2 linked regions of the Homo sapiens genome follow. The protein of the gene in region 1 binds, or shares a complex with, the protein of each later gene. Each region holds a gene or a part of one and is shown on either strand. Other genes may lie near its edges.

What was found. The genes of interacting proteins can lie anywhere in the genome.
Region 2: the proteins of RICTOR (region 1) and MTOR are in contact, whole or in part, in a cryo-EM structure (PDB 6ZWM), measured with the Homo sapiens proteins. Residues at the interface, in NP_689969.2 of Homo sapiens: Leu204, Arg205, Gly206, Asn209, Arg245, Asp247, Val248, Glu249, Glu251, Arg252, Leu254, Thr258, Asp259, Phe260, His261, Tyr262, Arg263, His264, Ser265, Pro266, Asn306, Gly308, Ser311, Gly314, Val315, Cys317, Ile318, Pro319, Glu345, Ile347; in NP_001373429.1 of Homo sapiens: Arg1028, Asp1032, Lys1068, Leu1069, Asp1108, Asp1109, Tyr1110, Asp1150, Lys1187, Asn1196, Val1200, Gln1207, Asp1210, Val1211, Cys1214, Arg1215, Lys1218, Gly1219, Tyr1220, Thr1221, Leu1222, Ala1223, Glu1226, Glu1227, Asp1228, Leu1230, Ile1231, His1234, Arg1235, Arg1238.

Annotation. Positions count from the first base shown.
Region 1 is NC_000005.10:38,955,757-38,959,504, reverse strand, and holds part of RICTOR (rapamycin-insensitive companion of mTOR), read left to right. Parts: intron 1-183; coding exon 184-310; intron 311-673; coding exon 674-838; intron 839-985; coding exon 986-1,062; intron 1,063-1,774; coding exon 1,775-1,853; intron 1,854-3,748. UniProt on the Homo sapiens protein: Component of the mechanistic target of rapamycin complex 2 (mTORC2), which transduces signals from growth factors to pathways involved in proliferation, cytoskeletal organization, lipogenesis and anabolic output.
Region 2 is NC_000001.11:11,261,013-11,264,760, reverse strand, and holds the start of MTOR (serine/threonine-protein kinase mTOR), read left to right. Parts: upstream 1-2,209; 5' UTR 2,210-2,316; intron 2,317-3,748. UniProt on the Homo sapiens protein: Serine/threonine protein kinase which is a central regulator of cellular metabolism, growth and survival in response to hormones, growth factors, nutrients, energy and stress signals.

The DNA.
Region 1 (3,748 bases):
ATGTGTTCATTGATTGTGGTAATCTTCACAATGTATGTGTATATCAAATCAAGTTATACACTTTGAATAATACAATTTTTATTTGTCATTTATACTTCAGTAAAGCTGGAAAAAATATTTGTTTAATTAATGTATCAATATAGTAATTTCTTTTAACCATTCTTATTTTTTTTTTCTTTTAAGTCTCCTTAATCTTTGCTCCTTGAAAAACCAAGATCACTTGCTAAAACTTACTGTTTCTAGCTTGGACTATAGCAGAGATGGATTGGCTAGAGTCATCCTTTCCAAAATTTTAACTGCAGCTACTGATGTGAGTATAACATAGCCAGTAAAACTATATTTATAACCAATTAATTCACTACTTTATGAATTTTGGGCTAAGTAAAATTAAGTTCTAAGAATATGATATGGAAATTGAGTTTACTTTAAAATTTTAGTTTCTCCAAGGAACTGCATATAGTACTCAGATTTTTGTATCGGGGGAAGAAGCTGCTAGATAGAAAGGGAAGTATTCTATTTCACAAGAACCAAAAAAGTATTCATATCAAGGGCTAGACCACCAATTCCAGGCATTCTTCCCTTTTCAAGTAGCAGGACTATCCCAAAATAAAATCAAATAGGCTATTTATGCTGAAGTTTTTTTTTTTTTTAATGTATTCATTTATCCTTATAGGCCTGCAGACTCTATGCAACAAAACATTTAAGGGTATTATTGAGAGCTAATGTTGAATTCTTTAATAATTGGGGAATTGAGTTGTTAGTGACCCAGCTACATGATAAAAACAAAACGATTTCCTCTGAAGCTCTTGATATCCTCGATGAAGCATGTGAAGACAAGGTAAAGGTTCATTTTTTATAATTTAATACTTAAATTTTTTTGAAATACTCATTTGACAATTATGTAAAAGTATATAATAGGCATTTTGGAACTAAAAATTTTGCTATTTTTGTGCAATTATAAAAAAATAATGATAATCTCTTTTAGGCCAATCTTCATGCTCTCATTCAGATGAAACCAGCGTTATCCCACCTTGGAGACAAGGGTTTGCTTCTCCTGCTGAGGTAAATTTTAAGTAAATTTTCTGTTATGTTTTTTTGTTGTGTTCTTTGGCAGTGTATATTAAAGATAGATTCAAATCCAAATGGGAAGTACGCTGAAGAGTTTACCTTTTAATATTGAAACATTGTCTTTTCATTATTTTGGGTTTTTCTTTTTTTTTAATTTTTTTGGTCTGTTCATACTTTTCATGACATTTTCCTTTTTTTTATTGAGACGGCCTCGCTTTGTCATCCAGGCCAGAGTGCAATGGTCCAATGTTGGCTCGATGCAACCACTGCCTCCCAAGTTCAAGTGATTCTCCTGCCTCAGCCTCCCAAGTAGCTGGGACTAAAGGCGCACACCACCACGCCCAGCTAATTTTTTGTATTTTTAGTAGAGTTGGAGTTTCACCATGTTGGCCAGGCTGGTCTTGAACTCTTGACCAGGTGATCCACTCACCTTGGCCTCCCACAGTGCTGGAATTACAGGCGTGAGCCCCCGTGCCTGGCTGACATTTTCTTTATTGTGATTGGGTTCGCGTGTTGTTGCAAAGATTGTGAAAATTTATTTGTAATTGAAGTTATAATAAATTATAGTTGACCTTTTAGTTTTAGGAACGAACTATTCCTAAAGTCTTTTAGCTCCTTATACTTTTTTAAATTTTAGTTATTTTAGCTTCTTAAGATACGTTTTTGCCAGACTCAATGTTAAACTATTGCTTGTTTTAATTTGCAGATTTCTCTCCATTCCAAAAGGATTTTCCTATCTGAATGAAAGAGGTTATGTAGCAAAACAATTGGAAAAGTGGCACAGGGTAACTTCTTATTTGAATAAAGTTGAATTTGTGTGTTTTTATCTTCTGAAATTGATTTGTGAATTTAGAGGATGGTTTTTTTATATCAGTGTTTTGAAATTAATAAGGTTAAATATTTAAACATCAATATCAAGTTGAATCCTAAATTCTGCATAATTGCTAGTATTTATAGTTATACATTTTTTTAAACTACAGTTATTTCTTTCATTCTGAACTGTTGACTGTATTCGTTCTATTGAAATTTGACTCTCAACTCATTTGATTTTATAATCTAATTTTTGGCCCTGTTTATCATTTCTTTCATTCTTCGGTCCCTTAATATGGCCTACAACTTTGCATGAGCCCTTTAAGCTAAAACCAAAATAATTTTTTTAAATGAAGGGAGATTGAAATCCCAAGGAGATATAATCATTTAGTTAAACTTTACTTTAGGATACTACTTTACCTAAATCTGAGAATGAACTTCTTGCTGTCATAGGGAAACCTGCTAAGAAGGGAGTAGTTTGAAGATATGAAACAACTTTTCTAGCTTTTCTTTAGCTGGTGATTGCTGTGGCTTCATTATTTTGTTTGAAGTATTATAAGTCATCGAAGCATCTTGGAAACCCATGGTCAAAATGATCTTTACCGATATAAATGATTTTTAGATTTTTCATCATTTCAGATCAGTTATCCTGTTTTCTCTTTTTTGTTAACATAGTTACACATTCTTTTATAGTGTCTATATTGAACCATATTTCATAAGAGATACTCCTTAAATGGACTAAAACTTCCAAGCATACAACTTAAGGCATGAAGTCTTTTAGTATTTGATGAATTGTAGAACTGAGACAAGATGTGATAGGTTTGTTTCCTAGAAGATATTTAAATCATCATAATAAAATTTATTATACAAATCATAGTATTAGAAAATTGCTTAGAATATTGGTGCAGTGCTTGAAAATAGCATAAAATATAAGAGCTATAACAAAGTTACATGCAAGGTATAAGGGAACACAGAGGAGAGATTAATGATTCTGCCTTAGGGATTATCAAAAGAAATGTTGAATAGGAGCCGTAGATGTGATACTTGAAATGGTCTTGAGGAGTAAGTAGGCAAATAAATTAGAAGAAGGGTATCCACGGAAGAAGGAGCAGAATAAAGCTGTATAGATCATTGGAACATTATAGACTTATGAAGAAAGTCATATTCCAATGTAGTTGGAACTAAGGTAAGTGTGGAGTGGCAAGATGAGGCTGGAATGGTAAATTAAAGCTAGATTGTAAAAGGCCTCGTAAGCCATATTATATCATCCTAAGGGATTTCAATTGTATATATAGTGGGGAATCCTTAACAGCTTTTAAAGAGTGATCAGAGTTGTGCTTTAGTAATCTGACAGGTTGCAGTGAAGAGGAGGAATTTTGATCATTGAAGGTAAAGTCTAGAAATATTGACACAAGTTTAGAAACAAGAATTGATGAGTGCCTGAACTTCACTGGTAGTTAGGTTGATTAGATGAGGACGCATTTTCTGGGTATTTTCAAAATAAGATGGACAGAATTTGTGGGCTGATTGGATACAGTAAATAAGAGGTCCAACTTGGCTCATAAGGTTTCTAATTTAATGACAATATATAATGGATCACTATTAAGAGATCACATTTATAAAAAGTGATTCAAGATTAGGCTAATGAATTTTCAATATGTTGAACTGGCATTGTCTGTGCAGTAACCACGTGATGGCTTGAAAATGTGGATCTGGAGCTCAGATTTGTGAGGAAAATGGCAGATATGGGGGTCATTAGTATATAGTACTAGTTGAAACCTGAGCCAAAAGCTTATGGATATGATAGAACATTTGCATTCATAATACCTTGATCTGTCTACCCTTTGCTAAGTATCTGACATATTTTAAA
Region 2 (3,748 bases), on another chromosome or scaffold:
ACCGCACCCAGCCCAACTATCTTTAATTTGGCAGTTTAGACCTTCTGAAAACTCATTTCTTCTACCTTCACTTGTTTTTATTACATAAGTAATTGATAATGTATAAAGAAAAAAAGTGTGTCTTTCCCAAATTACATCTTAGTTGTGCACATTTCCCCCATGTAAACAGAGACATATAAGAAATGCATAAATATTTTTGTAAATGGTTGTATTATACTTACATTGTTGCACAACTTGTAATTTTTAAACTAGTTGTGAACCTTTTCCTTCTTAGCAAATATTCATCTAATTACCACTATTTATTGTTATTATTATTATTTGAGACAGGATCTTTCTCTGCTGCCCAGGCTGCAGTGCAGTGGAGATCACAGATGACTGCAACCTTGAAGTCATAGACTCAAGTGATTCTCGTGCCTCAGCCTTCCAAGTAGCTGGGACTACAGGCATGTGCTACCACACACAGCTAATTTTTAAATTTCTTTTGTAGAGACAAGGGTCTCACTATGTTGCTCAGGCTGGTCTGGAACTCCTGGCCTCAAGCAATCCTGCCTCGGCCTCCCAAAGTGCTGGGATTCCAGGGATGAGCCACCATGCTAGGCTCTAAATTATAATTATTAATGGCTATGTATTTTTCTTATTATGAATGCATCTTTTTTTTTTTTTTTTTTTTTTTTTGAGATGGAGTCTCGCACTGTCACCCCAGCTGGAGCGCAGTGGCGCGATCTCGGCTCACTGCAACCTCCGCCTGCTGGCTTCAAGGGATTTTCCTATCTCAGCCTCCTGAGTAGCTGGCATTACAGGCACCTGCCACCACGCCTACCTTTTTTTTTTTTTTTTTGTATTTTTAGTAAAGACGGGGTTTCACTATGTTGGTCAAGCTGGTCTCAAACTCCTGACCTCATGATCCGCCCGCCTCGGCCTCCCAAAGTGCTGGGATTACAGGTGTGAGCCACCGCGCCCAAACGAATGCATCATATTTTATTGGACTCCTACTTTGAAATATTTAGGAATTTTCAGTGTTTACTATGACAAATAGCACTGTGATTAAAAAAAAATGTAGTCAAATCCACTTTTGCTGTTGATTTTTTTTTTTTTAATCTGTAGAGACATCGTCTCGCTATGTTGCCCAGGCTGGTCTGGAACTCCTGGCCTCAAGCGATCCTCCTGCTTTGGCCTCCCAAAGTGCGTGGGCCACCGTGACCAGCAGTTATTTATTTTCTTTGGTTGTGTGTGTGTGTGTGTGTGTGTGTGTGTGTGTGTGTGTGTATGTATGTATTGAGACGGAGCTTGCTCTGTTGCCCAGGCTAGAGTGCAGTGGCACGATCTCGGTGCATGCAACCTTCACCTCCCGGGTTCAGGCGATACTCGTGCCTCAGCCTCCCGAGTATCTGGGATTACAGGCGTGAGCCACCATGCCCAGCTAATTTTTGTATTTTCAGTAGAGACGGGGGGTGCGGGTGGGGGAATTTCACCATGTTGACCAGGCTGGTCTCGACTCCTGACCTACGGTGATCCGCCTGCCTCGGTCTCCCAAAGTGCTGGAATTATGGGCGTGAGCCACCGCGCCGGGCCAGCTATTGATTTTTTGAAAGGATTTTTAAAAAATAATGTTGCTTTGAAAATTTTTATTTATGACTAGCTCTTTTGGTTAAAACTTGGCTATGGTTTCTCTGGAGTGATCCTGAGTTGGATAATTTTGGGAAAGTTAGAGAATCTAATTAAAAACATTTTCAAATGCTTATTAATTGTAACAAAAGAGATATCACAGGATCCATAAAGAGCGCTAGCCCGAAACGTCTTTTGATGCAGTAATTCCTGGGCACCGGCATCGCTCACATTCTCCTCTCAGAATTACACCGGGAGGGGTCGCGAACCTCTGCTAGCCGCTCTCGCTGCGATCCGGAGATACCCAGACACCGGACTCCTTGAGTTCACAGCCCGGATGCAGAAGGGAATCCTAGCAGCGCCGTACCGGATGTGTGAGTGGAAGTGACTGAGGTGAACTCACGACCGATTGGTTCTCCCGAGTGGACCCAAGCCTGTTTTCACCTGCCACTGGCCGCGTGGTTTGTCTATTTGAACAGTCCCCGCCCCCTGGAGAAGCCGGGTCCTGAAGCTTCTCTTCTTCATTACTATTGGCCTGTTTTTCAGTCCATCTTCTCCCTATACCTGTCGATTGGTCCTCAGGGCTGGGAACCCTCCTTCCCTCGCTCCCGGCTTAGAGGACAGCGGGGAAGGCGGGCGGTGGGGCAGGGGGCCTGAAGCGGCGGTACCGGTGCTGGCGGCGGCAGCTGAGGCCTTGGCCGAAGCCGCGCGGTGAGTCTAGGGCCTGGCACGACCCCTCTAGGGCGGCGTAATGTCCAGACCCACGGCCAGCCTGCCCGTGGGGGGGCCAGGGGAAGCCGCCCGTCTGGGACGTGGGGTCCCCACATTGCCGGCCCCACGACCTGGGCACCGTCTGAGGCCTTGACTCCCACCCCTCGAGGCAACGCCCACCTCCCCGGGACCCCCAAGAGACCCCTGGACCCTTCGGCCCGCGGTACGTCCGCCCGAAGGCCGGCCCATCAGCTCTGGTATTGCCCTTTGGGTCTTTTGCCTGTCACAGCCACCCTTTCTTTTGAGCCACGTATAAAAATTGTGTATCTCTGCCCCAGGGAACACTAGCGTCCGTGTCAGCCCCTTGTCCTCCACTGTGGACACCTCTCAGAGATCCAGTCCCCGAAACTGAGCTTGGTTACATCGTTGGGGTACATCTTCTCTCCCTCTCCCCCAGCCCCATCCCTGTTTCCCCCATCCAATCTTAACTTCCTTAAGCCCTATCAACACCATTAGGATATTTGACTTCAGATATCCTAAGTTTAATTGAATTCAGTCTGGAGCAGATGGCCTGTGGGCCTCAGATCATATAAAGATACACTGGTTCTTTCCTGAGAATAGAAATCCCTTGCCAGCCACCTTCCCCCCTTTCGGACGCACACACATACACACAAACTGGAGTAGTTTTCTTAGCAGGGATTCTTAAGTTTCTTCTCCCCTAAAGGATGACATTTCTTTCTGCAGTCTTCTTCTTGGCAGTGGAGTATTTGAAAGCTTTACAAAACCAATTATTCCCAGGTTTTTCCTCTGTGCCTTACAAATTCTTTCAAAAATAAGAATTTTGAGAAATTGGTTTTGTAGCATAAGCTGAACATACTTGGGATAGGTGTATGTTACACCCATGGCAGTGTGGGCATAATTGAGGAATGAGGGAATGAGCTCAGGAACTAATTGGTGTTTTTTGTTTTGTTTTGAGACGGAGTTTCGCTCTGTCGCCCAGGCTGGAGTGCAGTGGCTCGATCTCTGCTCACTGCAAGCTCCGCCTCCCGGGTTCCCGCCATTCTCCTGCCTCAGCCTCCCGAGTAGCTGGGACTACAGGCGCCCGCCACCATACGGCTAATTTTTTTTTTTTTTTGTATTTTTAGTAGAGGCGGGATTTCACCGTGTTGGCCAGGATGGTCTCGATTTCCTGACCTCGTGATCCGCCCGCCTCGGCCTCCCAAACCCGGCCAGGAACTAATTACTTTCTTTTAGCTTACATTTGAAGAGCTAGTCCCCTGTAGAACTGCGTTGTTCAGTACAAGAACCACCAGCCACATGTGGCTGTGGAGCACTTGAAATGTGACTAGTCCAGGCCGGGCATGGTGGCTCACACCTGTAATCCCAGCACTTTGGGAGGCCAAGGCGGGCAGATCACCTGAGGTCAGGAATT